2 separate regions of the Homo sapiens genome follow, and region 2 is linked to region 1. The links come from fine-mapping of genetic effects on gene expression. A gene starts in region 1. The other region holds a variant in brackets. All regions are shown on one strand. Distances are from middle to middle.

Evidence for each region. PIP is the estimated chance that this variant, and not a neighbour inherited with it, causes the effect.
Region 2: its variant is fine-mapped to the expression of SIM1 in skeletal muscle (FUSION, PIP 0.95).

What each region holds. Positions count from the first base shown.
Region 1 is chr6:100,463,098-100,466,014 of GRCh38, forward strand. It overlaps SIM1 (SIM bHLH transcription factor 1), which reads right to left and starts at 1,824. Exons shown (of 12, transcript NM_005068.3): 1 at 1,517-1,824; 2 at 197-838. The coding sequence starts at 371.
Region 2 is chr6:100,308,253-100,311,169 of GRCh38, forward strand. No RefSeq gene overlaps it. Among named protein-coding and RNA genes, the nearest start is that of SIM1-AS1, 84 kb to the right of the region's middle. The variant C/CTTTATTTTAT (reference allele first, on the strand shown) is at 1,494.

The DNA.
Region 1 (2,917 bases):
GTAGAGGGAGCCTCAAAAAAGCGACAGAAATTCTGAGTTCAGTGAGGACCTTAGTGAAGCAGCCGAGCTAAACTTCCCTTTGCAAAATATATATGTAAATATGTATGCATTTCTCTGGTCACTGATGTCGGCTCATTGCCTGGCAAATCCCCGGCCCCTTCTGCCTTTGAAATTCCATCTGGGCAAAGTCACTTACCTTCTGGGAACACCACTCTCATTTTGAGATAGCTGGTCGTGAGTCTGATTATGGATGCTTTGTCCAGCTGCGAGGTGATAGCCGAGGGCAAAGGCAGTAATTTAGCCAGTTCATAAAATTCACTGTTTTCCTTCTCCCTCCTAGTCCGCGCAGCATTTTTGGACTTTTCTTTCATTGTGTCTTGTTCCCCCTTTCTTCTCACAACTTAAGCTCCGCAGATTCATCCAAAACCAAAAATAAACTTTCAATTAGAGATCATATTTGGCAAAAACATAAAACATACTTTGAATAAAGAGGCTGAAGTATTTGCACCAAGAACAGTGTATTGATGGCAGTAAAAGACCAGCGGGGGTGAACGGAAAATATGTTCTTTGAAAATTCGGGATGCAGTATAGGAAAGTTGCTGATCCACCGAATTTGGGCGATCCACCGAATTTGGGCAATCCTGAGGGTCGTTCAGGGTATCAAATGCCAGTGGGACCCCTGAGGAGCCAGCCTTTTCTTCTACTGCCAGCTGCGAACCCTGGTCCTCGGAAAATCGACATAATAATCCCTGACGTTTGCTCTTCAGTCTCGCGGCATTTAAGGTATCTCCGAGCCCCTTTGGGAAGAGCAGGAACCCCAGACAACTCTTTCAAGGCCCTGTGAAGACAACAGCATCAGAGCATAAGAGATCAGCGGCTCCACAAGTACTCACACACTCGTCCCAATTCCAAAAACACGGCCGGAAAGGGCCTCAGTGCGCCTAGCCAGGCGTTTTGGGTTTGTTTTTAAAGAAACGGGTAAATCGGCAGCGAGACAGCCCCCTGCAAATAATGCTGGCATTCCCTCACCCATGCCAGCCGCATCCTCCAGACCCCTGGGAAGTTGCCCAAACAACAAAATACATATTTCTGAAGACCCGCAAGGGATCTTCCGCCGCGGATCCCCGAGTCCGCGCCCAGGCCGGGCGCACGTCCCAGGAAAGCAGGTTTCCGCAAATCAGAATTCCTCCAAGGCGAGGCAGGGGCCTTTCAGCTCCCTACCTTGGCAGATCTGGACCTTGGCTACCTCTTTAACTTGGGTCTCAAGTCTGAGGGATTCCTCAAAAAGTGACACTTACACACCAAGTCTCTCGGGACTCCCAAGGCGACCCAGCGCTCTGGCTGCCCAGCAGGGGCTGCAACAAGCGGGGCCCAGCAGCGCCAGGTTAACAGGTGGCGCGCTCGCGACAGCCCCTCGCAGGCTCCCCCGGGGGTGGGAGGCGCCGCGGCCTCTCCCACACCACCGCGGAGCTGCGGGGCTGCTGGGCGGGCGCGGGGCGTCTTCTGCTTCACCTACCTTCAGTCCCCACAAGCGGCAGAGGTTTCGGGGGCGCCCATCTCTTAACTGTTCTCATGCCTACCGTCCAACCCAGCGACACCGCCGGCCTCTCCGCTTCCCACCGGCAGAGAGGAGCAGAGCATTCCCGGCTCCCTTTTCTGGATCATGAATTGGAGGAGGGGTGCGTGGCAGAAAGAGGAGGATGCAAGCTTTGGGACGAGTGAGGTGATTTTAGAATCCTGGTCCTCCGTAGTTGCTACGAAGCCAGTTCACTATTATTCCTAATTGGAAGCCGAAAACTGCCCCCCGTAACTTCTTTATAGCTTAAGGGTTTAGCTTCAACTTCACTCCGGGGCCGCCTCTCTCCCGCCCTCCCTCAATGCCACTCACAAGCCCCCTCGCCTCCCATTGGCCTGGCGCGGCCAGGGGCGAGGCGCTCATTGGCCAATAGGGCTGAGTGACACGAGTCGGCCCCGAGCCGCCCTCCGCGCGCCCAGGCTCCGGGCTCTGAATCTTACTACCCGCGGGACCGCTGGACTCCTAATGAGCTCAGGGTGCCGGGTCGGCGCTGTCCGGTTGCCGCCGCTGCTCGCGGCCTCCTGGGCCTTCCCGACGTCGTGCGCGACCCGCGCTCCTCGAGCTCCCTGGGGTCGGGTGGTTGAGCGCTCAGTCCAGCGCGGCGGCCCAGCAGAACCGGGAACGTCCGGAGGCAGCGGAGGTCGGGCCTGCGGGTTAGGTCTACCGGCGGAGGAGGCAGGGTTCGCCCAAAGGCCCATCCCGCTGGCAGTCGCTGGCCGACGGCGTGCGCGAGGCCGGTTTGGGGAGTTATTTTCTCTTTCTCGTTTCTCTGAAACCATGGCGACACGGAATTCATTGCCAGAGGAAATAAATACAATAACTGTCTTTAAATTAATCCCAAAGAAGTGCGTCTTTTTCGAAATGGCTTGGGTTTGGGGCTGATTTTTTTCACCGTGGAAACTCGGCCGGGGAGTTTTCCTATGGGGAGCAGCTAGGGGGACACTAGGGGAAAAGCTTACATTTCAGGGCAAAATAGAATGATTGATATAGAGATACATAGCTCCCAACAGTCCTTTATCTTAAACATTAGCCAACTCTTTGTCGGGTTTTGTTTCAGGAAACAAAAGTCCAACATGATTATTCCTTACAGAAAGGATACAGTCTACATGAATGAACTTAACGATGCTCGCGGTTCCCTAATAGGAGCTGTTTAAACAAACGCTCACCAGGACTCTTGCTGACTAATTATCTTTTAGAGACCCTCTAATTTGAACCGCCTTCTCTTTCTCTCATCTGAGAAAACACAACAGGTAGCATCAAGAAAAAGTCAAATTGTCCCAAAAACAATTGTTGTCCTCACGAATCACCCCCTACAGACTCGACTCCCGGCTTGGTTTTGGT
Region 2 (2,917 bases), 150 kb before region 1:
AGACAGAGTTAAATTCAAGAGAAGAAAAAAAATGAATAAAGTTTGAAATTTGTGAATTAGGAGTTGAAGGAGTCCTTTCTGTTTCCAGCTTCAGTTTATATTGTCTGCCTATGGCATATGGTGTTGCCTCAAGCAGTGTGATGGCATTCCAGCAGAGGGTGGGCACTTACACTGACAGTTGTAAAGGAGATTTCTCCATTAGGTGGTAGATTAGTGCTGTGCCCTACTCTAAGGTTTTAAGACTTCTCAACATCTCTGCCTATCTATACCACAAAACACCTCTAATAGATATATAAATGCTAATTTTTCATAAGGGAAAGAAAGCACAAAAGATGTATTATCGGTGTGAAGGTTTGGTCTAACTGCTCCAACAAATGCAATGCACACACATCAGGACTCAAACAAGAAAGAAATTTGTTTTGTTGTGTTGTACTTTGTTTTTCAGAAATCAGTCCAGTGTAAGCATTAGAACTGCTTTGCTAGTTTCTCCTCACCTGTGGCTCTGTTGTCCACAACACACTTCCCTCACATGATCCAGTATTGTCACTAGATCTCCTACACAAATTGGAAACAAGAGTTGTGACAAGATCTTTCAAGAACACACACTTTTAATAGTGCCAAAATACTGGTCATTCTGCAGAGGCATTACCCTAGAGGGCCGTTATCCTATGTCTCTCCCCTGCATTGATATTTCTATCCATTTTTGAGGATTCAAAGATAGACATCGGATAATCAAGATCATTGGGTTAAAAAACAATAACAGTAAAGTTTAGAAGAGAATGAATGGTTAGTCCACAAAACATGGAATGTTGGATCAGGATTGGAAACTGAGGCTTCAGAATCCCTCTGCAGTCAGGGGAGTCCTCTGAAAGCCCCCAAAGCTGCTTGGACTCTCTCATCAGCATCATTGTGGAGACACCTTACCACCCATGATATGAGTTTCGAGAAGCACCAGACTTCACCAATGATGAATAAAACTTCACTTCTGATGAATAAAACTGTCTCCAGGCAGCTGTAACCAGCTGCCCACTAGACATAAAATAAGACATGTGGCAGCTGGGAAGACTGAGTAGCCAAAATAATGCATTTGACTTTCATTGCAAGAGGTACCTCTCCATCAAGAGGGATTATGCAATAGGGGCCCATATCATGCTCATAGCCAAGGCAAAACCTAATATGGAAGTCCCGCTCATCTATAAACTATTGCATAGGTTTCCCAGGTTTTTCTCAGAACACCCAGGATGTCATATAAATAAGATTCTGTAGTAATCTGTATTGACTGTCCTTGAAATCCCAGCTCGAAGTGTTACACACATTCTGGCAAAGGATGCAAAGGAAAGCAAGTGTGTTCTCAGTTTAAAAGTGGGCCAGCGGTCTGGATAGTTATTACTTGGGATTAAGTTTAACTACACTACCTCTTTTTCATTCTGATACCCTTGAAAATTTACTATTTTGTATTGTTTCAACCAAACGATACTACCTTCAACCCATAT[C/CTTTATTTTAT]TTTATTTTATTTTATTTTATTTTATTTTATTTTATTTTATTTTATTTTATTTTATTTTATTTTACTAGAGATAGGGTCTCACTTGGTCGCTCAGGCAATCATAGCTCACTGCAGCTTCAAACTCCTGGCCTTAAATGATCCTCCTGCCTCAGCCTTCTGAGTCTCTGGGATTATAGATACAAACAACCACGCTCAGCTCTCAGTCCATATTTTTAAGACAAAGCTCAAGAAAATAACTAAGGCATTCTCTAAATTTGCTTAATATCTAGGATAGCCTAAATCCACTTTTGGAAACTATTAATAAATCATCAATTTCATATGAGATTGTCCTAGATCTTCACAGGGCCAGATATCTGATGTAATGTAAGTTTATCACTTAATTTGACACAGATATAAAATGGAAGACTAATGTTGATGCAATTTAAGGCAAGTGTTACTATTATTAGTCAGTATGATTTGGATCTCCTTTTATTCTCTAAAGAAATGACAGAAAAAATCATGTATTTAACTGTTTCTTACAGAAAAAATCATATTAGAAAAAAACTAAAGCCATTTTTCATAGTTTTCCATTGAGACTAGACATCCTTAAAACTTTGCCCTAATATCTTTTTAGGGGAAAAGGGTTGAGAGCTTTTGGATAATTAGACATTTCATGGAGAACAAACATAAAATTCCAGACAATTTTTGAATATACTGTTCTTAGTTCATGTAAGGCGGGATTTTTACCATATAAAAATGAGACCCCCTAGACACTGAATTTGCTAAAATATACAAAGTCACTATTAACAGCCTTGAAATAAAATCTTTTAAAGAGTAGGAACACAAGTTGCTGTTCACCTCTCATCAGCATCGGCTACTTTTACTGTCATCTAGCATTTCTAGATGATGTTTCTCATAGTGTCACCTCTAGTCATTCCTTTATCTCACATGGTCACAGAACATTTTCTTCCAGATGAGAGAAAAGATCAAGTTAGCCATCTAAAGACCAAAAATACTAAAAATTTTGAGAGTCTAGTTTGAAACACAAAGTTATCATGCAGCTTTTAAATTATTTGAAATAACGAACTGTTGCTTTCCAAGAAGTCACAAGTTGCATTTTGGAGCTGAGCTTGCAAATCTGCCCCAGGATGAAAAGTTGGTGGCTCTGATTTGTAGAGTATTCATATTTGGGCACATCTGTTGTAATGTATCCTAGCTTACATGATGGCAGTTGACAGCCCTGGGCACCTGCTGCATAAATATAAAAACAGCACAATGAAAGTAGGTGTACAAAACTTATAATTTTAGGATTATTAAAAGTTAAATGCGGAAGGCAAACCTGTCAGACTTGTAGGGAGAACAAAAGGATAATGCATTTATGACCTAGAGAACAAAAGGATTTCTTAAGACACAAAATGTGCTAACCATAAAGGAAAAGACTGGT